Homo sapiens: one gene and its partners. The protein of the gene in region 1 purifies or fractionates together with the protein of each later gene. This does not show direct contact. Each region holds a gene or a part of one and is shown on either strand. Other genes may lie near its edges.

Region 1 (3,636 bases):
TGCCCCTCCCCTCTGATGAGACCCCTTCCACCTGCACTGCTGCCTTGGCCATCTCAAGAGCCCACCTAGGTCCTCCCACGGGTCCATACAATCTCCCCTTCAACTCAAAAAAGACAAAACCACCATTTTCTTTTTCAGTTCTCCCTGCTCCAAGGCCAAGCTCTAGGTCAGTTTGTCCTCTGGCACCCTGGAGCCATTCTACTATTGTGGAGGGGAGGTGGGAGGAAGATGCCTCCACCTGAATCCCACCTGCAGGAGAGCACTATAGCCTGTGCTGTTTAAGTGCATGGGAAGGAAAGAAAGCCTGAAGAGACAGAGACCTCTGCCTAGCCAAGGTGACCCCCTTTCCTTCTGAGCTGAGCTGAGGGCTTTTCCAACCCAGGAGAAGGCAAAACAACGGTTGATGGGCTTGAAGCTCAAAAAAAAGGCCTGCTCAGAATAAAGGCCTGAACTTTCCCCAAACCCACTCCTAGAAGAAAGAACACAGTCAGAAGCTCATGTTTGGTTCCATCGGTGATTTTAAGAATTTCATTTAGGCTACAGAGGTTCATAGGAGGACTCAGAGTTCCAGGCCCTCCAAGGAGACTCTGGCCTGTAACTGATTTAATCCCAGGGCAGTAAGGTGAGCAGCATGTAACCCCTTGTCAAATAAGGCAGTGGAATAAGGGTTGACAGAGGCCAGCACTCAGGCTGTGCTGCTCAATGACAGTGAACTCTTCCAGGCACAGATGATGAGGGTCTGTTGCTCTCAGACTTGGAACATGAGAACAGCAACTGTCTCTTGTCCATTAAGAAAAAAAAAGCCAAATTTCTTCTCTGGGCAATATCCAAGCCCAAGGTGTAAGAAGAAAGCTTCCTTACACTTTCAGCACTCAAAGTGGGATTCCAAAAATCGTAACTACAAAACATGCAGCTAAGCAGGCTCTAGCAAGTCCAGAAACATCTCCACATGGTCAGACCACATGACAAATGTTGCTTTTGGTTTGATCAAACCTGGAGCTGGTCAGTTGCACAGCTAATCCATGGCATCCATGATGTCTTCCAGGCTTCTCTTGATTTTTACACCAACCTTTAGCCAAACTTCACTGAGGGCCTGAAGAGACTTGATTGGGAAGGCCATGGACATGCCAATAGACCCAAGACCCATGCTAGGGAACAGTGATCCAAAGCAGAAAGCCATCTCCCTAGGGCCACCTAATGAAGGCCAGTGAAACGCAGGTGTGTTCTGCAGCCCCAGGCCCCAACAGAGAGGCATCCAAATGCCTTTCCCAGCTCAGGTTGCACACAGAGAGGACAATGAATGGAGTGAAAGGAAGGTAAGGCAGGGAAGAAGTTTCCATCCTGGTTTCCAAAGAAAGCTCCTCAGGTAGGCAGAGGGTTGGGTCAAATGCAAAACCCAACGAATGGATGGTCAGAAAGCCTGTGGTGTTACCAGTTTTTAATTCTTTGTGGATTCAAAACTGAAGTAGAAGGGCCTTCTGAGTCAAACAACACGGCAGCCTGGGCTATGAAATTCTGTTCTGTGATTTTGGCATCACAACCACGTAAATTCTCTTCACACCTCTGCTCCCACATGGAAGGACTGCAGGGAAAGGCACATCACAGCAGCATTGCCCTGGGGTGGGTGGCTTCCCAGACCAGAGTTAGATGTCCCCATGCACAACCATGGGAATGCGGGGTCCCTGCATTCAAAACTCCAGTGACAGAATATAGTCCCCAACCAGCTGCTAGAGACAAGAACACTCTCCAGGCTGCATGCTCAGGCCAGTGCCTGCTCCTTCCATACCTCATGGGTGACAGTCACAAAAGTGGTGGCAGCAGGAGGGCTCAGTAGAAGCGCTTTCGGCTCTGTTCCTGCCATTTGTTGTAGAGTATGATACCAATGACTATGGCAAATACAGAAAACACCAGGGAGAAAAAGACGATGAGGAAGAGGGCCAGGCCACTCAGGGGCGGCAGTGGAGCTGTCACTGAGGAAGCAAGAGAGAAGCAAGTCAGAAAACAGGGAGCCCACCCAATAGGGAAGGATCAAACTATAGGCTGTCCGGCCCCCAGTTTCTGACACCTACTTCTGGGAAGCCAGAGCTTAGACCCCCTCTTTCCAACTGAGAAACAAAGCGGCCCTCCTGCTGCTCATCTGTAACTTGAAGGGGAAAGGCAGATGAAAGTGCTCCCTACCCTTCAGAAGAAGAACACAGAGCAGAGACCGCCCTGTGAGCTATGGGTACAGCACTGCAAGCTCCTCCCCAACTATGGGACCATTTCCCGCGGGCCCCTGTGCTCACTCTCAGGCAGCTTCATATTGTCCACTGAGGGCAAGAACACATCTCGATGGAGCTTTTCCTCTTCTGGGGTTCTCTCCACTGTCAGTTCAAACAACTTCAAGGAAATGACATCATGATTATCTGAAGAAAAATGGAAGAAGGATGACTTGTGCCACTTGAAAAAGAGGTATGTTTCTTGAAGTCAGTATCTTAGTTCAAGCCTCTGATCCACAGCTAACCAGCAGTGACCTTGAAAAAATAATTGAAACCTCTCCATTTTGCAACTAAAAATAAGGATGGGGAACAAGGCATATTCTATATCTTCTGTATTTAAGTTTTTATCAACAAGCATGCATTACCTGTATAGAAGATCGCTGACTTAAAATGGTTCGACTTACAATTTTCCAACTTTATGATGGTGTGAAAGTAATCTGCGCTTAGCAGAAACCATACTTCAAAATTTGAGTTTTGATCTTTTCCCAGGCTAGCGATGTGTAGTACAACACTCTGTACTGAGGCTGGGCAGCAGCAGTGAGCTGTAGCTCCCAGTGAGCCACACAATCACAAGGGTAAACAACCAGTACTGCATCGTGTACTGTATTCCATACGTTACATCAGACATTCAACACTTTGTTACAGAATAGGCTTTGTGTTAGATGATTTTGCCCAACTGTAGGCTAATGTAAATGTTCTAAGCACATTTAAGGTAGACTAGGCTAAGCTATGATGTTCAGTAGGGTAGGTGTATTGAATGCATTTTCAACTTACAATATCTACAACCTACAATGAGTTTATTGGGACATAACGCCATTGTATGTCAAGACGCATCTGTATAATTAAAAAATTTGGAGATAAAACCACAATTAAATCCCATATGTTAAACCTTCCAGCACAGTAAGAACAGACAAAGTAGGACTGCAGCTTCCCCGCTGGTGAAGACCACACACGTGCACACACACACACGTACAACAGGAAAAGGTCTCATGGCCGCTGTTTAATGGGCCATGGGCAGGGCACAGCTATGGGCATGGGATACACTGCCCTTCTAGACTATGCCTGTTTCTCTGTGGCTTCTTGTACTTGTGACTCTTAATCTCCCTAATAATTACCAGAGAGAAGATCAAGCAATTAGGGACTAGATTTCTCTCTTTAAAGTATCATTATAAACTCCTACATTTAACCATATCTGATGTGTTGCAATGCACTGAAGTTAGACTTTTTTTTTTTTTTTTTTTTTTTGAGACAGAGTTTTGCTCTTGTTGCCCAGGCTGGAGTGCAATGGCACGATCTCGGCTCACTGCAACCTCTGCCTCCCAGGTTCAAGCAATTCCCCTGCCTCAGCCTCCCAAGTAGCTGGGATTACAGGCATGCA
Region 2 (3,500 bases), on another chromosome or scaffold:
GAAAACTAAGGCCTTGCAAGCCTATGGCTTCACCCAGGGGTAGGATCAGGCACCTTAACTCTAGAGCCCATTCTCCTAACCACTGAGCCATGATTGTCTTACAATTTTGATACTGCAAAACTGGAAGAATTGTCTGGCTATTATCTAAGCTGTTCATAAGCTGAACAAGTAGATCTGAGGGTAAGAGGAGTTCTGTTTTAACTAGACTGAGTTTCAAATAGAGATGTTTCAGACTATAGAGGGGGAAAAATGGCCTGGGAAGATCATAAATCTAAGCCTGTTTCATTGATGTTTTTGTCATTTGCATCCAGTAGCTATTCAGCAAATATACCTATGGCAAAAAGGATATAAGTTATGGGTATAACTGAAATAATCCTGGGTTTAAAGCAAAGCTCTGATAAATACAGACGATGTTTCTCCAGGTGCCAGAAGATATGTTGAAGTTTGAGCTCAGACTGACCAAATGCTAGTTATGGGGTATGTGATAGCTCCAAGGTAGTAATATAAAGGCTATTTTAATTAGAAACTTTTGAGTAAATGGCCCTCAGGATAGTGATTTCTGTTTGAATGTCACTAACCTTTTTTAGTTACAGATCCCTATAATAATGCTTGAGTCTAGGCAGAACAACTTTGTGTTTATTCTTTGCAAAGGGTAGGGTAGTGCTAACAACCTGCTCTTCATTTGCTTTTTCTCCCCTTTGCCGATTCAGAATGCTGCTTTGTCAATTTGTGTGCCTGCTGTAGGAACTGGTCCGTTTTCCAAGTGTGACAGTGCAGGCAGAGAAGGGTGGATGAGCTGTAAATGCAGCCTAGAACACATTTGATTATAGAGAATGAAGCACTAATATCCCAATATAATTGGAGTTTAAAAAAAAAAAATACCACCTGGGCATCAATGTGTTTCCCTGCTTTGCATTTTCCCAGAACTATTTCTGCAAACATCAGTTTCCTCAGCCAACTTAATATTGAGTCACCAGAACGGAAATCAGCCATATTACTTCCTTATTTGTGTTGAAAATTGGAACAGAATGGAAATATTTCTTCCCTCAGAAGTTGGCAGGAACGGCAACAAGACAATCTGTTAGGGGTGACAGCTATAGGCTCTTCTCTTTTTTAAAAATAATATAGTCAATATTCAACATGGTTTTCTGGGGTAAAATCATCCACATTTCTGATTCTTTATGATCCTAGCAAAGCTTACATTCTGTATACCTGAAAGATGAAAAAGGAGTTGGATTAAACTTGAGTCTTACACTTATCTATTACATTTTTATTTATTAATGCTGAAGAAAGGTAATATAGGCTGGGCGCGGTGGCTCACGCCTGTAATCCCAGCACTTTGGGAGGCCGAGGCAGCCAGATCACCTGAGGTTGGGAGTTCAAGATCAGCCTGTCCAACATGGAGAAACCCCGTCTCTACTAAAAATACAAAAAATTAGCCAGGCGTGGTGGTGCATGCCTGTAATCCCAGTTACTTGCGAGGCTGAGGTGGGAGAATCGCTTGAACCTGGGGGGTGGAGGTTGCAGTGAGCCGAGATCTCACCATTGCGCTCCAGCCTGGGCAACAAGAGCGAAACTCCGTCACACACACACACACACACAAAAAGGAAAGGTAATAAAAAATTTTATCAAGTAACTTCATCCACAAACATAGTATAGCCCTTTTTAACTGATAAGAAGAAGGTGACACTTTGGTTTTCCTTTTTGAAATCTGTTCTTGGGTTTCAAATGTCAGCTGCTACATTAAAAACAGCAGGCATAATATATATATATATATTTTTTTTTCCAAATACAAATGCACGTACTCTTGTGTCTCCCATGGCATCTAATATACCTGCCTTAATGACCTCAGCCCACTTAACTGATTTGGTGAACAATTCTGCATCTGAGGCTGTATATGTGAGGAAAAATTAAAGGATTGGAAATGAAAGTAAAATAACTATAGTATAAAGGATCATATGTTCAAAGCATGCAGGCCTAATATTATAGGAAGTCCCAAACATATAAGTGAATTGCATTCCTAGAACTGACACATTTGTCTTTTCTCTGTTGCATTCACAATATAATTACATTTCAGTCACATTGTCTTAGATACAGTTGGCTGTTTCTGGGCTGTCTTTCAAGCTGGTTTGTAAATTCCTGAGGGTCTAGGACAGTGTCCTAATTCTCCTTAGCAACTCTTGCACCACCTACTGTACTTCATCTTCCACGATGGATCCTTGACCTAGCTGAGCTGTAGTTTTAAAGTCATTAGTCTAGAATGAGCAGAATGGTCATAGTCAATGCAGTTTGTGCTGCAAGTAGCAGAAACCCATTCAAGCTGACTTAGCAAAAAGGAGACTTAGTGTGAGGAAATAATAGTACCCTGATACCAAGGATGATTTGTTCTTCCCTCACTATTTTTTTCTGCTTTGTCACCTTCTTGGACACGTATCTTTGCCAGTGTTTTCTCTCACAGCTGCTGAACAGCCTGTTACCTGCAAATGGGTTATATCCGTTAGTCTTTCAAATCAGAAGTCCTCTGTGTTCAGGATGTACATGGTATGAGTGAAGTGCCCAGTATTAACTGGATGTGTAAGGCTATTGTGCAGCCTCTTTCTCTTGTGGCTCAAAATCAGTGTGCCAGGTTTCTTCTGCCATGTTTGGCCTAAGAGCAGTTTAAGGGAGTTTATAGTGTTTTCCTAAATCCTGTCTGGTAGGTAGAGGCAAATGGCTATGTCTGTACAACACAAGAACCACAAATCTTGGCCACATGGGCAGTTTGCTTGCCACACTCCACTGTGTAAGGAAGAGACTAGAGATCTATGATGAAGATTGCCTGGCAGCCACAGACACAGTTCAATAACTTTTTGTGAACTTAATCTTTTTTCTCCTGCCTAACCATTTCCGCATTTATTACGTGTTTGCACATTCATCTTCACTTTTGTGGTTTTAATTTTGAGTAAAATTTAATAAAGTTGTTTCTTTTTTTAAAAAAAAAAAAGGGTCACAGGAGTGCCAGGAAGTAGAATTCTATCAGGCACCAAAGCACCATGTATGAGTCTCTCTTTGTCTTTCTCCTGCTCCTCTTCCTGTCTTCCCACTCTCTCCCTTCCCCATCCCTCTTGTCCTTTCTTACAGCTTCTCCTTGTATGTGGCCCAAACCTGACTGCCTCAGCCCCCACATGCCTCCTTTTCCTCAAATGACCCTGACCCACAAGGGTCTCAATTCCAAGTTCCAAGAACAAAGATTCTATTAGCTTACTTTGCCAATAGGTTGTCTTCCTCCTAGACCCAAGAAGATAGGGATAGGGCTCAAAGAGGGGAGCCGTTGGGTAAGTAGATCACGACAAATCTTCTCTACCACAAACTGAGGACACATACAATGTCATATCATGGTTGGGATCCAAGCTCAGTTTACAATGCCTATATGCTCCATAATATTGCAAAATATTTGCAATGAGAAAAAGAAAAATGTGAAATTTTAAATTTAAGATTAAAACTGCATAATGGTGTCCCCT
Region 3 (3,500 bases), on another chromosome or scaffold:
ACACTTCCTCCAGGGTCGTGTCCATCAGCCCGAAGCTGCTGAGGTGCAGTGCATCCAGGCTGCGCTCCAGGTGCTGCAGGGGCGGTGGAGGGGGAGGCTGCGGCAGGGACGCCCAGGCAGGAGTGCGCCCACCTCCACCACCTGCAACTGCCCCCCGACCCGTGCGCCCTCACACCTGGAAGAGGCGCTCGAAAGCCCCCTTCTTGGCGGCCTCGCTGGGCAGGATGTAGGAGAGCTCCGTGCTTGTGTCTGAGACCAGCAGGCAGGAGGCCACATGCTTGCGGATGAACTGGGACACCTGGAGCTCGGAGCAGCTGCTCAGCGGGGCCCGACCTGGGGGGCTGGATGCCAGCCCTGGCTCTGTGGGGGACGTGGGAGCAGGAAGGAATTCACTCAGGGGCTGGGAGGAGGGACCCCCAATGGGAACCCAACTGGGTCAAGATATGGGCATTGGAGAGGAAGAACCAGGCCCCAGCAGGTATCCTGGGCCCAGGGGGTGACGCTGAGGACCCAGCCTCTCCAAGATACGGGCGTTGCAGAGGGCGGGCCAGGCCCCAGCAGGCATCCTGGGCCCAGCGGGTGACGGTGAGGGCCCAGCCTCTCCATTGTGGATTCTCAGGTGGGGGTCCCGGGGAGAAGGTGGCCCGAAGCCAGCTCAGGCAGCTTCAACACAGACCTTGGGGGCCCCCCGGCTCGGCGGGCCGCTTGACCAGCGTGAGGCGGTACCCGTCGCCATAGGTGCCCTTGAGGAAGAGCGGGGAGCCGCAGCACTTGAGCTTCCCATGGGAGATGATGGCAATGCGGTCCCCAAGCAGGTCAGCCTCATCCATGTGGTGGGTGGACAGAAGGATGGTGCGGCCTAGGACAAGGCCAGACCCAGGGTCAGGGGGCAGGGGAGGCGCCGCCCGCACCCCTGCCCACACGGCACCCCACTCACCTGGCTTGTACTTCAGGATGAGGTCCCAGATGGCGCGGCGCGCGTAGGGGTCCACGCCCGCCGTGGGCTCGTCCAGGATGATGGCGCGAGAGCCGCCCACGAAGGCGATGGCCACGGACAGCTTGCGCTTCATGCCACCCGACAATGTCTGCACCAGTGAGTGCCGTTTGTTGGAGAGCTCCAGGTCCTCGATCATCCTGGGACAGGGAGGTGGGGCATGGGGCTGCTGCTATGCAGAGCCCCAGGGCCTCCGCCCACCTGCCCCGCCCCCCGCCCAGCCCACCCACTTGTCCATCTCTCTGCGGATCTCCTCCTGAGCCATGCTCTTGAGCCGTGAGTAGAACCAGAGGTGTTCCTCCACCGTGAGCCGGTCAAAGAGCACATTGTGCTGCGGGCACATGCCCAGGTTCTTGCGGATCTCATCCATCTCCGTGCGGATGTCGTGCCCGTAGATGGTGGCGGAACCCGACGTTGGAGGGAACAGGCCGGTCAGGATGGACCTGGGTAGGTGGGCGGGGTCATGACCCCACGCCCTCTGCAGGGGCCCCACCCTGCCCTGACTAGGACTCCTGCTCTGGTCAGCAGATGCCCACCGCCCTGCCCCTCCGACACTCACATGGTGGTGGTCTTGCCCGCCCCGTTGTGGCCCAAGAAGGAGACCACCTGGTTCTCGTAGAGGTTCAGGCTCAGCTTGTTCAGGGCCAGCTTCTTGTCGTCCTTGTAGACCTTGGTGAGTTTGTCCACGCAGACAACCAGAGGCAGGTGGGTGGGCTCCTCCTCCATGCCACGGGTCTCCTCTGCACCAGGGCTGTGGATCAGCAGGGTGGGGGCGGCGCCAAGGCCACCCAGGACTCTGAACCCAGCGCCCACCCCAGCCACCATTCTGATGCCAGCCTCACCAAAGCGCCGGCTCTCCATGGCACAGGCCTGGTCCTCCTCCATGACACTGAGGCGGGGGGTGCGTGCCCACGGCCAGCTCCACTCCCAGGCTTCTGTCCGCCCACTGCCCAGCCAGTAGGACTTCTGCAGTGGGAAGTACCAGGGCCGGGGCAGCCCGTACATGCCTGGGGGTCGGGGAGGGGAGGGGAGGCTGACCTAGGGCCTGGGGTGACCATCCACCACGTGGGCCACGTGCCCACCCAGGGAGCCACCCGTGCTGCATCCAGGAGTGGACACAGACTGCTGGTCCCCAACCCTGGCTGGGGACCCCTGCCTCTCCCCTGCCCTCCAAGGGCTGGCCAGTACCTGGGTGCACAGCCTCAATGTACCACGTGAGGATGCCATAGACCACGGCGTCCACCATCAGCATGGTGACAGCCAGGAGCAAGTTGAAGTCGTCCCCCTCCACCGGGGACTGGCTGAAGGTGTGCCACTGGATGCCCACGCCGGCCACCTCATACAGCGCGAAGTACTTAGAGCCCAGACCAAAGGCCGTCGTGGACATGAGGGACTGAGAAGGCAGTGGTGTCAGCACGTGGGGTGGCCCGGCACCCCAGCCGCCCGCCTGCCCGCGACCCTCACCGCGATGCACTTCTCGAAGGCCGTGATCTTATCATGCGCCACCTCCTCTCGGATCGCCACGTACATGTAGGGCACGTAGCTCAGGAAGTAGATGATGCCACCGCAGGCCGAGGCCAGCTTGGCCTTGGAGTACAGCACAGACACCAGGAAGCTGGGTGGGCAGGGGCCACGCGCACCGTCATCCACCCGCACGCCCGGCCTCCTGGGCAGGCCCGTGCCAGGGTCCAGGGGGCTCTGAGAGGATGTGGGGTGAGCTTGCTGGGCAAGTGCCTGCCCCAGGTCCCTCCTACCATGGCCCGCGCTCACCAGAACATGATGGTGGCCACCGCGTAGACTGCCAGGAAGAGCCAGATGATGACCACGTGGCTGTGCATAAGCACCTGGCCGTACTTCAGGATGGCGGTGAGTGCTGTCACGGAGATGGACAGCTGCACAAAGCCGGTGATGAACCAGGCCACCCAGTGCACCGCGTTGTTCAGGCCCATGGTCTTCATCACCTGCGGGTGGGCCAGGGGCTTGGGGCAGGCCCCGGGGAGGACGCCGCCCCTCCCTGCCAGCCCGCGCCTCCAGGGAGAGTCCCGGCCCGCGCACCTCCTTGAGCCGGTGCTCCTTCTCCGCCACGATGTGCTGGATGGTCATGGCCACGGAGTAGACCCAGGAGATCACCATGCACAGCGGCATCATGTGCTCAATGACAAACAGGAAGCTGCGGGGAGGCCGCGCTCAGGCGCCACTCAGCCCCAGCCCCAGCCCCAGCCCCGGGCGCCCAGCACTCACTCATCGCGTGTGTAGCAGGGGTAGGGGAACATCTGCACGTAGCTGCCTGGCTCCACCACATCGTGCCCCACAAAAGTGTCGATGATGGCGCGCTCCATCATGTCTGTGGGTGGGGGCAGCCATCAGGTGCCGGGCAGGCCCTCTCGTCCTCACACCTGTCCTCCCCCATGAATCCTCCAGCCGGTCTTCCGGGCCTGCTCCTCACCCTGGATCCAGACGAAGCCGTAGAGGAAGTAGAAGCGGCCGCCAGTATTGGGCCCAGGCC
Region 4 (3,500 bases), on another chromosome or scaffold:
TTTATCACCTCCCTCTATGGGTGGAATGACATGGTAGGCAGGAAAGCACAAAGAACTCAGGCTCTGGAGAATGAGCTTTTAGCTGCACCCTAGGTCAGCAAGGCCGCTGAGTGCTGGCACAGCAGGAGTGTGCAGTTTCAGTCCATGTAGACATTTGCTCTGTGGGCTCTTGTCTGCTGTGGCTTCACTGGATGCTAGGGTGGCAGAGTAGGTGCACACTTGGACAGGTCTCTCCTGCTGGGAGAGCCTGACTGAAATGGGGACTCTCAGAAGCAGTCCCAAGCAGCCAAATCACAGAACACACAAAGCAAGAACCGTATGAAGCACCTGGGGTCGAAGAAGACACCTGCGATTCTGCAAGCCATGGCAGTCCCTTCACTACTTATCCCTATAGATGCCGAGCGGCCACAGACATGAAATGTGGTCTGATAAGAAGAGTTCCAACAGCAAAGATGGCTGCCCTCTGGCTGGTGCAAAAACTCCAGAGAAAACAAACAGCAGGCTGAGATAGCAGGACTAGAGTGGGAGCTGCCAACAGGTGGCACCCCCTCAGCAGTGTTCTGGGTCCTGGGAATGCCCACGCCCAGGAGCTAACCTCCCTCCTTTCTAAAAAAGGTAACCAGTCAGGTGAGGGGTGGACATCTTAGGGAGAGGGGAGAGCCCTCTCCAGCACCACAATCTCATCATCCAATAATCATTCTCCCTTCTCCGGGGAGAAGGATCCAGATCTCCCTCACATACTGAAAGTGCCTTGAGAGGATTCCCAGCCATTCAGCCCTTCCTGGCCACACCTGACTTAAGGGTGGCAGTGCCCCGAGCTCTCCAGGCTGAGCGCATCCAGACCCTGATGCGCCTGCCATTCAGGACCACATGCGCCCAAGGACCTTGTCCATGTACAGCTGTGCCTGTGCCACATGCTCTGGGGCTTGGGCAGGGAGCTTCCTCACCCGCGTTGGTGTCAGGGTTACAGTTCTGGGTCTTGACTGAACCTCTCCTACTGAGTCTTCGGGCAGCGGAGCAGCAGGGCCACAGAAGAACACTGACCGCCAGGACATCTCCAGTGTGGTGGGGACAGTGGAAAGGGCCCTGGCAAGGGCCCAGGTCCTCCAAAGGCCCTGCCTCACCCCTTGAAATACCCACCTGTTCACAGCTGCCTCCTTCCCAAAGCCCCTCTGGCTATAGCAGTGAGGACAGGAGCCTAGGTTCAACCTAATATACTTCAATAGAAAGTTTTAGAAAAAAAATCAATAGAAAACAAAAACAACAACAAAAAACAACAGCAACAAGAGAAAACAAAGCCATAGCTGCTGAATGTAAAGGGGGCCTCCTGAGGGGGGCAGCCCTACACTTACCAGGTGGCACTGCTCTCCTTCCTCAGTTACTGTTCATCCTCAGCCTAAACTGGCTCCTGGCAAACTGTCCGTCCAGACTCCCGCGCACACACATCCTCTTTCCCCCCAACGGACCCACTCAGTTTACCCTTCTTCCAGCTAAACTTCTTCAGTTCCATACCTGACACCATATGGTCTTGAATCTCATTCTCCTCGTCCTCCTAGTGACTCTACTCTAGGCTGGACCTGCTAACCCACTGAGCCCAGAACAAGAACCAGTGCTTCCGGCCTGCTCAGACCCACACCGAACCTGAGCGGGCTCTCCCAGCTCCCTTCGGTAGACACTGCCCACAAGAGACCAGCCCTGCTGCCCTCACCTGGTCGCACGTTGTTGGTTTTGGTCACCTAGATGCCACTGGAACACCCCATGGCTCTCCCCTCTCCCTAAGATGTCCGATGTGCTGAGCTCAGGCTCCCATCCAATCTCACCTCTGCAGCGCGGCACTTCTCCGGGCCATCACCGCCCGTTTCTCCCCTCCTGCCTCAGAAGAGGCATCTGAACTCCATGCTCCCTTTCTCTCCTCTCTTCCCTTCTCCCTCCTTCCTCCTCAGTCAGGAAGCACCTCTCCAACGCACCACTCCTCTACCTGCATTCGACATTGCCACCCACAGATCTGTTCATGAGCCCTTCTCTGAGGAAGAGGAGGCCCTTGCCCTCTGCCTGCCATCCTGCTTCTCTAGCTTTCACTGCTCAGCTTCTAAAAGGATTTTTAAATATTCAGGGCCTTCATCTCCTCACTGCGCTTTCTAAATCACCTGCGCTTTCACTTCCACTGTCACTCCCCACTCTACTGCAGCTCTCTGATGGGCCAGGAGCTTCTCTGGTGCTATCAATTCTGATTCTTTGGCCTTTGCAGCAGCAAACACCGACGGCTGTCCCCTAATGAATCCCCTCCTCCCTCCTGGATGGTCATTCTTGGGGTCCTCAACCCTAGGCCTCTTCTTTTGTCCTTCAACATTCCCCCATAAGGGATGTGACCCTTTGTGGTGCTGATCCTCACCAGCAGATGGGAGATTCCTATTTCTACAGTTCCATGTCTGACTCTTCTGCTGAGTTCCATTTAATTCATCTTCTCTTACCCAGTCACTGCATCAGAGGTTCTGATTCTGTCAACAGCACTATCATTCTCCATCTCTCGGTTGGAAGTCAGCCCTGACCTTGCCAGACCTAGCTATAACCCACTGACACCACGCTGTGTGAATCACTGTCAGCTCCTCCTTGGACCAAAAATCTCCTTGCTGGTCTCCACACTTGTAGCCACTCCCCTTCAATTATTATATGTTGTCACCAGACTGATTTTCCTAAACCAGCTTATCCAAGACTTTGCTTCCCAGCATCACCAGGATAAATGTTTAACTCTGCAGGCTGATAGTCAAACTTTCACAATTTGGGCCTTGTCAATCTTTCATTCTCATTCCCTCAACTCCATTCATAACTGTCTTGCACCAAACACTTGATCTCCACCATTTCTTCTCCAGTCTCTCCCATCTCAGGGATACTACCACCACCCAACCCACAGAGGCTCAGTGCTGAAGCTGGGAGCCATCCTTCCTTTCTCCCTTCTCCCACACGCCTTGGCCAGCAGACCACTAACCTCATCAAGTCTTCCTCAAAAATGTATCTAGAATCTATCTGCCTCTCAACCCCAAGGACATTCTATCTAACTTCCTTTCAGCTAGCCTTTCCCCTCCAACCCCTGCATCTGTCAGCCACAGTTATCTTTTTTTTTTTTTTTTTTTTTTTTTTGAGACAGAGTCTGGCTTTATTGCCCAGGTTGGAGTGATCTCAGTTCACTGAAACCTTCACACCCCCAGGTTCTAGCAATTCTCCTGCCTTGGCCTCTCGAGTAGCTGGGATTACAGGCACCCACCACCACGCCCAGCTACACAGTTGTCTTTTTAAAATATAAACCAAGACCGGGTGCCATGGCTCACACCTATAATCCCAGCACTTTAGGAGACCAAGGCAGGCAGATCACTTAAGCCCAGGAGTTCAAGAACAGCCTAGGCAACATGATGAAACCCCGTCTCTACCAAAAATACAAAACAACAACAACAACAACAAAAAAACCTGGGGATGGTGGCGCATGCCTGTGGTCCCAGCTACTT
Region 5 (3,500 bases), on another chromosome or scaffold:
TTTTTATGGCTTTGGCTAAAGCAAGTGAAGCAGCGGAGGTACTAAGGTGCTAAACTGAGGCCTCTTGGTCTCTGTGTACAAAACAAAAGGAGGGGGGCAGGGGACAGCCATCAAGCCCTCTTGAGCCTCCAGCTGAGTGGAAGCAAATGGAAGATCTTCAGGGCAGGGGGGAGGCTGGGGGATAGGGTTTAGCAGCCTCCTCCCCCCATACCCTCTGCAGCCCTGCACTCCCACACATCTGTCCCTGCTGATAGTGTCTATTGGAAGGGAGGCAGTTAATCTCCCCTACACTCTGTTGTTAATCCCTGACAGCAGCTGGAACAGAGATGGCAGAAAGGACCTATGTCAACCCCATGAGGCTTCTCCTTTGGGGCAGATAAACAGCCAGGAGCCTGGGGAAACAGGGATGAGAAGGGCATTGGTTTAGGCAGTGAGGCTCGGCCACTCCCTTGGGTCCCATCTGTAGCTCTGCCCACCAAACTTGATGGGGGGGGGATGGGGGAATATCCTCTGGATGAGCAGAGCCAGCTAAGAGGAGCCAAATGTCCCTGATAGGATGGGGGAGAGGCAGGACTGGGGGAATGTCAGGAGCTGGAATTGGTCCCAGAAGCCCTTCTGACTCATTCAGACCTGGACTCCTCCAGGATCTGGGGTAGGTTCTGATCCCGGGGGCCAGGGGCTGGGGCTGGAGTTGGGGCTGGGGCTGGGGCTGAGGCTGGAGCTTGGTTGGGAGCTGCTGTAGGGGTGGGGACCTGGGCAGGGCCTGAAGTGGGTAGGGGAGGTTTGCTGCCAGGATGGTACTCGTGGGCAGCCTTGGGCTCATTGGTATGGTAGGAGCCCTTATAGCGATGATTTTGCAGATAGAAGAGCACCAACATTCCCACCAGCCCCAGCAGCAGAAAGGCCACCAAAACTGAAAAGAAGAAAAGGGACAATTCAGATCTTTGGGATCTCACCTGTATACACACACACACACACACACACACACACACACACGCACTCTTTGAGATTTCACCTGTATACATACACACACTTTGGGATTTCACCTGCACACACACACACACACACACACACACACACACACATTTACTTTTGGCCAAAAGCATAATGTATGACCCTCAGTTAGCTGTTCGACCACACTAAACTCATCTCAAGTGTCTGGCAGGTTTGAATTCCTGGCTTACCCCCTGCCACCTTCTGTTTCTAATATTCTCTTTCCACATCCCTGGTAGTTACCCCAATTTCTTATCTCTCTAGGTGTTACTGTATCCCCATTTTCCCATCCCTTAGCTATAGTCTCATTTTAATATTTTATTTAAAAATCTGTAGCATCCTCAAACATCTAAAAATCTCTGCCCAGTTATATGTCACCTTCAGCATAGCCTGTCTCATCCTCAAACATCTAAAAATCTCTGCCCAGTTATATGGCACCTTCAGCATAGCCTGTCTCATCATCCTTTGTGCCATTGTGCATCTAGTGCCTTTGCCATCCTGCAGCCTTGGGGATCAGGGGCAGGGAAAGGATGCTGACAGTCAGAGGGTAGTCTTGGGAGGTCAGCTTAGTGATCAGTGCTACTCACAGCCTAAAAGTATGGCAACCCATCCTTCATCATGGTAGTAGGGGAAGTCTGGAGAGGAGAAAGCACCAGTTAGGAGATGCCTCCTCCATGTTAAGAATCATTCCCTTCCGTGTCATCCCTCCCTTCTGTCCTCTGTGTCCTGGGAATGTACCTGGGGGCAGATACCAGGGATCAAGCTCAGGTGGCACCTCTGAAACAAGACGTGGCATAGCTCCGCAATTAGATTCGGACAGTTCTCCCTGAACTCGAAGGGCCTCAGCTAGCTCAGCAGTCATGGGTCGAGGGGTTCGGAAGTGGGTCTTGAGGGGAGCCACGTTGTTGAATCGAACACCAGACAGGCAGCCTGAGAAACCTGGGGTGTTGTAGCGCTGGATCTCCGGGTCAATGACTCCTGTCTCTGAGAGAGAGGCAGGCCCAGAAAGAGGGACTTGGACCCAAAGGCCCTGCCACTCTCACTGTCCACAGGTTTCCCACTCATCCTTCCCACTGCCCTCAGCCATTCCCAGGGCCTTCACTTTCCTTGAGGATCCAGGAACATATGCCACAGCTCCTTGCCTAAAACGCGTCCGCACCCGCAGCTTACCCATCACACGCCCTAAATACAAGGCCTTGGGTGAGTCCAACTGGCTGTCCACCAACAGCGAGAACTTCTGCTCTGTCAGTGGGAAGTAGTCCACCTGAGGTGGGGAGGGGGAGGGGGAGGGCGATGAGGGAGCGGGGACCAGAAGCAGATGCCTGTGGGCTGGACTGGAACTGTGTGGACCCTGGGAATATACTTGGGGGCAGATACTGGAGATCTCTCATTCTGTCCAAACTGGCGGTGCCAGCTGGGTGAGTCCTAGCTCAATCTGAAGTGGGCAACCCCTGGGCCTAGATGTAGGATTTGGTATATATATTTTTATTATTATTATTTTATTTTATTTATTAAATATTTTTCTTTGTGAAGATGAGGTCTTGCTATGTTGCTCAGGTTGGTCTCAAACTCCTGGCCTCAAGCAGTCCTCCCACTTCAGCCTCCCAAAGTGTTGGGATTACAGGTGTGAGCCGCTGCACCTGGCCTATATATTTTTTAAAACCCTGGTTTTAAGCCCCATCTTTGCAGCTTACCAGCGGTTTGACTTTGGGTAAACCACTTTATTTTTTTGAGATGGAGTCTCACTCTGTCGCCTAGGCCTGGAGTGCAGTGGCACGATCTCAGCTCACTGCAACCTCCACCTCCCAGGTTCAAGCAATTTTCCTGCCTCACCCTCCTGAGTAGCTGAAACCGCTTTACTTTCTGAGGCTCTTTACTGATTTGTAAAACACTTAAATAAGAATGCCTATTGTCTGGCTGGGCGCGGTGGCTCACGCTTATAATCCCAGCACTTTGGGAGGCTGAGGTAGGCGGATCATCTGAGGTCGGGTGTTCGAGACCAGCCTGACCAACATGGAGAACTCCTGTCTCTACTAAAAATACAAAATTAGCTGGGCGTTGTGGCGCATGCCTGTAATCTCAGCTGCTCGGGAGGCTGAGGCAGAAGAATTGCTTGAACCCGGGAGGCAGAGGTTGCAGTGAGCTGAGATCACACCATTGCACTCCAGCCTGGGCAACAAGAGCAAAATTCCATCTCAAAAAAAAAAAAAAAATGCCTATTGTCCCCTTGGAGCTATTGTGAGGGTTACATGAGGTGACACACGTGAAAATCCTCTATACATTCAAATGTGATCTACAAATATTAAGTATTTGATGTTTTCCTGGATGCCACAACGGAGACCATGAGGTTATGATCTGAACTGGCTCACCTCCCTCTATGCATACCTGGATGAAGAGGTTCCGGTAAACACGGGTGATATTGATGCTATGGGGCTGGCCATCGGTCACTGGTCGAGTGGTTAGCTGGTACACGTAGGGACTGGTGCCCAGCTGATATCGCAGCTGAA
Region 6 (3,500 bases), on another chromosome or scaffold:
GCCACCACACCTGGCTGATTTTTGTATTTTTAGTAGAGATGGGGTTTCGCCATGTTGGCCAGGCTGGGCTCGAACTCCTGACCTCAGGTGATCCACCTGCCTTGTTCTCCCAAAGTGCTGGGATTATAGGCGTGAGCCACTGCTCCCGGCCCCAATATAGGTTTTAAATTTTCTTGGTATATGAAACCCAAAACTCTGCCAACGATTTGTATTTACTTAGTGTCTTCTGCAACCTTTATCACAGCATTGGTACTCAAATACCTTTATCCTGACAAGTCTGGATGAAGCTACTTATCAAATACAGAGACAGGACAGTTCAATGTATAAATACAGCTTATGATTATTCTGCTTTAACTCACCGCTGAGGCTGAGCAGGCCATGGGGTCTGGTTTGGCGTGGGAACTGAATTCGTGGGACTCACTAGCATGGCACTATAGATATTGGAAGCAACCACAAGTATGCAGAGAAGAATAGGACCGATGATTGCTCCTTCCAGGCCTAGGTAGTATGCTCCACCGGCCACTGCCAAGCCTGTCAGGTAAGGATGGCCACCTCTGGAATAAAGAGCACGACCTTTAACACACAAAAACTGGAAAAAATCTGAAATACATTTCTAATACAATGTGCATTCTTTAATACACTATGCTTTTTAGCATATTATCAGCTTTCTTTAGATCACCTCGATGCATACAACTGAACACTGACTGCAATAATATTGAGATGCAACAATATTGAGATGCAACAATTGTTTTTCCTATGGATGACATCTGCCTCTTTTTATAGCTCCAGGAATGAAAGAATAAAGCCAGCAATGTTAACAGATATTTTATACCCATTACAGGTGCCTGCCTATGATGGGTTAATGTTGGCTTGGGACTGGTTAGGAGTCACCTGTTAAGTTAACCTCCATCAAGGATAATTAAGTGAGCACAATTTAGCATGTAATTCAGTTAATTATGCTTTTATATGACGACAGCAACAATGAGAGCATCCCTGTTACTCATAGGTCAGACTTTTGGCAACCTCCTAAAATATAGTTTTTAACATAGGTGATGATAAAAGGCCTCCTGAGGAAAATATCTGTCACAAAGCCCAAGATTTCTATTTCACAGGAGAATCACAAATGCCCTCCAGCTTATTACAGTATCACTTATGTAAGCGGAATGAAATAAAACAGAACACAGTAGCATAGCACATTGATAATGACAAGAAAGGACCACTGACATCAGAAGGACTGGGAAATAAGTCACATTCTGTTTGTTTCTAGTTTTAAACATAGATGAGAAGAACAATTCAGTGAGGGGCAAATAACTAAATATCCTGGAAGGATGTTCTATATTACAGCTAAATCAAAGTAAGACTTGTGGAGAACCAGTCTTCAGGAAACCAATAAATTATATTCATAATGTGTTTGTCTTTCTCATTCCAAAAAAATGATTTAGGGCAGTATTCCATGTTTGCTAAGTAAACTTCTTCCCTAAACAACACATTCAAGGAAAACTATCAAAAATGCTTAAAGCTTTTTATTCCGCTCCATCACCCAGGCTGGAATGCAGTGCCGCAATCACAGCTTACTGCAGTCTTGACCTCCCAGACTCAAGTGATCTTCCTACCTCAGCCTCCTGAGTAGCTGGGACTACAGGCATGTGCCACCACACCAAACTAATCTTTATATTTTTGTGGAGAACGGGTTTCACCATGTTTCCCCGGCTGGTCTTGAGCTCCTGGGCTCAAGTGATCCACCCACCTCGGCCTCTCAAAGTGGTAGGATTACAGGCTTGAGCCACTATGCTCAGCCTTAAAGCTTTTTTTAAAAAAAATAAAAACGTGTGGGAGTTTATGAATAAAAGCTTAACCTATTAAAAAATAAAACAATTTATGCCAAACCTTTCATTTCCCAATAACAACGTTTAAAGACAGTATTTTAGGCCGGGCATCGTGGCTCATGCCTGTAATCCCAGCAGTTTGGGAGGCCAAGGCAGGCGGATCACTTGAGGTCAGGAGTTCAAGATCAGCCTGATCAACATGGTGAAATCCCATCTCTAGTAAAAATACAAAAATTAGCCGGGTGTGGTGGTGCACGCCTGTAATCCCAGCTACTCAGGAGGCTGAGGCAGGAGAATGGCTTGAACCTGGGAGGCGAAGGTTGCAGTGAGGCGAGATTGCACCACTGCACTCCAGCCTGGGTGATAGAGGGAGACTCTGTCTCAAAAAAAAAAAAAAAAAAAAAAAAAGACAGTGTTTCTTTAATTCCAGCTGTAAACCTTAATATAAAATTTACAGCAAAGTTTAAAGAAATAAAAGCACTTAAGTATTAATCATACTTATTCCTGCTCAAATGTCAACTGTGACACACTAGTTAACCACACTATGATGTTCAGCTTTTTAATTTTCTCTCTCAAGTTTTAATGTGACTGAGAACTGGCTTGATATACTTAATGCAATTTCTAAAAGAGATGTCAAAACCTATAAAAACAGACATTTATTTATTGTATTATATGGCTAAAGTGTTGATTCTGACTTAGATTTAACCTGTATTTATCATAGAACCATTCCAATTATATCTTTAGAGAGCTCTGCTTGCCAGAAATTAACTTGCTGAGATTTGGTTTCACATGGATATCCTCAGACATACAATCTAACAACATTTTCTCCAAAACCAAAGAAGAGATAAAAATAATCATTAACTGTTCACTGTACTTAAAATATTTGATGTACATCTGGTCATAATTCTTTTCTAGGTTAAATGTCACTAAATCAAGAGAAAATTATTCACAATTTGGTTTTAACCCAGGACATCATATATATTATAAATATTACATATGTAATAAGAAAATATTGGCTGGGCATGGTGGTTCATTCCCGTAATCCTAGTGCCTTGGGAAGTTCAAGGCAGGAGGACTGCTTGAGCCTAGGAGTTCAAGGTTCAAGGCTGCCATGAGCCATGACTGCACCCTGCACTCTAGCAGTCTGAGTGAAAGAGATATTGTCTCAAAAAAAAAAAAAAAAAAAAGTTGCTCTGGAACTCTGGGGCAACAACAACCAAAAAAAAAAAAAAAAACCCCAAAATATCATGCCTTGTAAACAATACTATTTTCAATGAAAATTTCATTTGTGGGAACACAAAAGGCTATTTCACTGAAAATTCCTACTACCAGTTCTTTTGTATACCCCCAGGAGAAAAAAATCCTCCTTTAAAAAAAAAAAAACGGAAATGCCTGGATGATTCACTAATAAGAAATTCTGTGGCTTACTTACCCTGATATGTCAGAGTAGATTGCAGTATCTACAAAGTATGTTGGCAAGAGATGAAAAATCAACAGTAAAATGGCCTTGCATCCTAACCCTTGTGTCAGCCACAGGTCAAGAACTGCAGGTACTGCTGCCCAGTATGTCCCCAGGAATGGCACTGCTCCAAGGATTGCTGCTAATGCTGAAAAAAGAGTAAAAGAAAAACAACTTAACATCATCAGCAAAACACTAACAAAGCAAAAGAATCT
Region 7 (3,500 bases), on another chromosome or scaffold:
GGTTTGGCACCAGACGGCCTGGGCTCGGATTCCACTGAGCTACTTTTTACTTGTGTAAACCTCAGCAAGTTACTCAAACCTTCTAAGCCTTAATTTCCTCGTCTATAAACTGGCGATGACATTGTAAGTAGCTGCTTCATAGAGCTGCTGTCAGGATTCATTGGGACGTTGGTGAAAAGTGCTCAGTACATTCACTTTCAATACTAGCTGATAAAAGAATCCTAACAATAGAAACATTAACTTAAACACTCAGGGTCTCACCTTCAAATACTAGCTTTTCATGTCCTTACTTGGCTGATAAGCCACGCTGTCTATAAACTAAATAACTGAAGACAAGGTAACAATTAAATTAATGAAATAATAAAACTATAAAATTAATAACTAGAAAATATCCAGAATACCATGATAAGATTGTCTAAGAATTTTTTTTTAAATCATTTGAAGGGCTACCCCTTTTTCAGAGTAAGACTCACACCTACCATATCCCTGACCTGCAACTGTCCAGCCCCTCCAGAGCTGGGGCATCCTGATTGAGTAGGGGAGCCATTATATTTTCAGCTAATACCCATTTTATGAGGAACATTCTGTAAAACCAAAATTGATCTTCCCTTAGTGAACACCCACTAGTCTTGTTTCACCCAGTGGCATTCCTCAGACAGAGCAACTTTAAATAAGTGCAGATGGCTGTCTTGTTCTCCACTGAACAGGCTCTCCTAGGGGTGAAAGCTCCCAGGTCCTCAACCCTTCCTCACAGTACGTGGTTTCTAGCCCCTATCATTCTGATGTTGCTTTTCTGAGCATGCTGGTCTGGGAATGTCTCTTTTGAAAGGGGCTACTCAAAGTAAACATTATCTTCCAGAGGTGGTCTTGGCATACTGAACAGAGTCAGATGTTACTTCCCTTTTTCTTAACACAGTCCACAGTCAAGGAACACATTCCCTTCCCTGGAAGACATATTTCACTGCTTCCAGTCAACTAAAATCCCCATGCTTCATGCACACTTCCTTCCAGCCATGCCTTCCCATCAACATTTATCTGTTTTGTCTCATCCATTTATGAGCAGGATTTTACATGTATTCCTATCTACTTCATTTGATTGACATCTTGATACTATCCTGGCCTCTCTAGATCATTGTGGATTATGAGTCTATCAGCCACTGGCTGGCATATACAGTTTCAAGTCACACAAGCATTGCTTTAGCAGGTCATCCATGCTAGTCACTGACAAAGCTATTGAACAGAGTCCTGCCATCTGCTATCCGGATCTGCCTTCAGCCTCACAGGGGCTTATTAACTACCACTCTTTACCCTTGATTATTAGACCAGTGTGGGGGACATACCCCAAGGTGGCCCCTAGTGACTCAGGCCCTTGTGTAATCCCTTCCCCTTGAATGTTTGCTTACAGCCCATCTTCTGATGCCCTGAAATTCTCTTTATGTTAAACTCCCTAAGGGTGAGGACCGTTGGTTTCATTTGTATACCCCAGACTGCTGAGCACAGCATCTTCCACCAGTACTTTCAACTTAAAACCTGTGAAAATAGTTTGTGACTGGAAAATACTGTTAATATATGATGCTACAATTCTTCAACTGTGGACTTAGTCTGAGTCAAGGACTTTTAATTTATATGGATGATCTGGATAACAGTAAAATTCAGATTATACGTATGTATTCATTCATTTATTTGTTTATTTAGGAGATGGGATATTGCTATGTTGCCCAGGCTGGTCTCAAACTCCTGGTCTCAAGCGATCCTCCCACCTCAGCCTCCGAAAGTGTTAAGATTACAGGCATGAGCCAGCACACCTACCAAAACTCAGATTTTATAAGCAAGACACATCGTTTCCTTCCTCTGTGACCTTACTGTGACCTCTGTGTTACTGTGATGGCCAACCATTCATCTACTCATGACATGTAACTCCCTTAATGGTAGCTTTGTGACCCAAAAGACTTGATCTTGCTTTCAGAGGAGCTTGATTTATATTGCATTGAAATAGCTCAAGGACCAAGAAAATTCAAATTAACCAACCTTTCACTCAACAAATAATTAATGGAGTCCCTTTAAGTACTGTCCACAGATTCTTAGTTACACTTCTTTTCAAGATGTGGAACTTAATTCCACTTGCATTGAGTGTGGGCTGGACTTAGTGACTTATTTCTAAGAAACAGAATGAAGTGGATGTGATGGTGTGTGGCTTCTGAGGCTAGTATGTCATGGTATCTTCCTTCTTGTTCTCTCTCTTGAATTCCTTGTTCTGGCAGCAGCCAGCTGCCACATTGTGAGGACACTCAAGCAATTTCACACAGCAAGGAACTGAGGCCTCCTGCCAAGAGCTATGTGAACAGGCCACTTAAGTAGCAGACCCTCCAGCCACAGTCAAGCCTTCAGATGACTGCAGCTCTGGCTGAGATCTTGACACAACCTCATGAAAAACAGTGAGTCAGGACCATCTAGCTAAGCTGCTCTTGAATTCCTGGTCCACAAAAACTATGAGATGATGAATATTTATTGTTTTAAATTGCCAAGTTTTAGAGTAACTTGTTATGCAGCAATAAACAACTAATACAAATACAAATTCAGAATTTTGACTTACCTTGTAGTATTGTAAAATTCTTGATGAGCTGACCATGCTTGGAGTCTACTAGCTTCATTTCTTCCATAATCACTGATAAGTTGGCTACTTCAGTGTCTAACCTCGACCTCATCAAATCTTGTTGCATCCTGAGAGAAACAGAATCCAAACGGATGTTGGCCAGGGTATTATTCAAGGAGGTCAGATCATCTGTGTGTTTGGTAAGGGTATCTGTGCAAGTGGTCCTGACTTCATTTAGATTGCTGGTCAGCGTCCGCAGGTGGTGGGCTGTGTAACTGATATTGCTAATGATGTTCACAATATCCGTCTCAAAGAGCTGGAAGCGTTCCTCCAGTTGGTTGAACTTGATGGCTGTTCTATTCTCTGCATCTTTGTGTAAGTCCTGCAGGTCTTTCAGGTTCTGCTCGTTGGCTTGAGAGATAGTGGTGATGTTCTCCATCTGACCTGTGAATGAGTTGAGCTGGCTGTTCATATCCTCCAGGGTGTCGTTGTTGGCTTTGGCCAACGCAGAGTTGTTGGCAGCCAGCGTCTGCAAGCTCTGCACTTTCTCCTTCAGCCAATCCGTGTCCTTCTTGGCTTGAAGAAAAACCTGCTGCAGATTTTGAAAGTCGTTCTTGATTCGCTGGATAGCCTGGCTTGTGTCATCCACAGACCGCTGCAGATTCGTGATGAGGTTCCTCTGCTGCACCTGGGTCAGGTTCAGGTTGTTGAGGTTCATGATGACCACATTATGAGAATACATTTGGTTCTGCAGATTGCCCTGGAGCACGCTGGTATCTTGCTGCAGATTCGTGACATAGCCATTATACGCCTGGAGGGTTTTGTTTACAGTGGTGATGAGGAAAGAGTTATTCTCCAAAGTTTCTTTCAATTGACTCTGCCTGTCCACCAGAGCATCCCCGCTCGC

Evidence for each region.
Region 2: the proteins of LMAN2L (region 1) and MFAP3 purify together in Homo sapiens (affinity purification with mass spectrometry; 2 studies listed by BioGRID and IntAct, with this or other methods). This does not show direct contact.
Region 3: the proteins of LMAN2L (region 1) and ABCA2 purify together in Homo sapiens (affinity purification with mass spectrometry; 2 studies listed by BioGRID and IntAct, with this or other methods). This does not show direct contact.
Region 4: the proteins of LMAN2L (region 1) and KIAA0319L purify together in Homo sapiens (affinity purification with mass spectrometry; 2 studies listed by BioGRID and IntAct, with this or other methods). This does not show direct contact.
Region 5: the proteins of LMAN2L (region 1) and CNTNAP1 purify together in Homo sapiens (co-immunoprecipitation; 3 studies listed by BioGRID and IntAct, with this or other methods). This does not show direct contact.
Region 6: the proteins of LMAN2L (region 1) and TMEM245 purify together in Homo sapiens (co-immunoprecipitation; 3 studies listed by BioGRID and IntAct, with this or other methods). This does not show direct contact.
Region 7: the proteins of LMAN2L (region 1) and COLEC12 purify together in Homo sapiens (affinity purification with mass spectrometry; 2 studies listed by BioGRID and IntAct, with this or other methods). This does not show direct contact.

The regions. Positions count from the first base shown.
Region 1 is NC_000002.12:96,705,429-96,709,064, forward strand, and holds the end of LMAN2L (VIP36-like protein isoform 2 precursor), read right to left. Parts: intron 2,406-3,636; coding exon 2,286-2,405; intron 1,971-2,285; coding exon 1,828-1,970; 3' UTR 501-1,827; downstream 1-500. UniProt on the Homo sapiens protein: May be involved in the regulation of export from the endoplasmic reticulum of a subset of glycoproteins. May function as a regulator of ERGIC-53.
Region 2 is NC_000005.10:154,041,967-154,045,466, forward strand, and holds part of MFAP3 (microfibril-associated glycoprotein 3 isoform 1 precursor), read left to right. Parts: intron 1-3,500. UniProt on the Homo sapiens protein: Component of the elastin-associated microfibrils.
Region 3 is NC_000009.12:137,014,738-137,018,237, forward strand, and holds part of ABCA2 (ATP-binding cassette sub-family A member 2), read right to left. Parts: coding exon 3,441-3,500; intron 3,339-3,440; coding exon 3,236-3,338; intron 3,165-3,235; coding exon 3,050-3,164; intron 2,956-3,049; coding exon 2,765-2,955; intron 2,610-2,764; coding exon 2,459-2,609; intron 2,388-2,458; coding exon 2,183-2,387; intron 2,002-2,182; coding exon 1,837-2,001; intron 1,735-1,836; coding exon 1,554-1,734; intron 1,438-1,553; coding exon 1,225-1,437; intron 1,135-1,224; coding exon 938-1,134; intron 860-937; coding exon 677-859; intron 361-676; coding exon 176-360; intron 74-175; coding exon 1-73. UniProt on the Homo sapiens protein: Probable lipid transporter that modulates cholesterol sequestration in the late endosome/lysosome by regulating the intracellular sphingolipid metabolism, in turn participates in cholesterol homeostasis.
Region 4 is NC_000001.11:35,435,404-35,438,903, forward strand, and holds part of KIAA0319L (dyslexia-associated protein KIAA0319-like protein), read right to left. Parts: intron 195-3,500; coding exon of another isoform or gene 79-194; exon of another isoform or gene 1-78.
Region 5 is NC_000017.11:42,696,031-42,699,530, reverse strand, and holds part of CNTNAP1 (contactin-associated protein 1 precursor), read right to left. Parts: coding exon 3,379-3,500; intron 2,258-3,378; coding exon 2,164-2,257; intron 1,978-2,163; coding exon 1,732-1,977; intron 1,629-1,731; coding exon 1,581-1,628; intron 914-1,580; coding exon 621-913; 3' UTR 1-620. UniProt on the Homo sapiens protein: Required, with CNTNAP2, for radial and longitudinal organization of myelinated axons. Plays a role in the formation of functional distinct domains critical for saltatory conduction of nerve impulses in myelinated nerve fibers.
Region 6 is NC_000009.12:109,032,948-109,036,447, forward strand, and holds part of TMEM245 (transmembrane protein 245), read right to left. Parts: intron 3,434-3,500; coding exon 3,259-3,433; intron 555-3,258; coding exon 360-554; intron 1-359.
Region 7 is NC_000018.10:343,702-347,201, forward strand, and holds part of COLEC12 (collectin-12), read right to left. Parts: coding exon 2,594-3,500; intron 1-2,593. UniProt on the Homo sapiens protein: Scavenger receptor that displays several functions associated with host defense. Promotes binding and phagocytosis of Gram-positive, Gram-negative bacteria and yeast.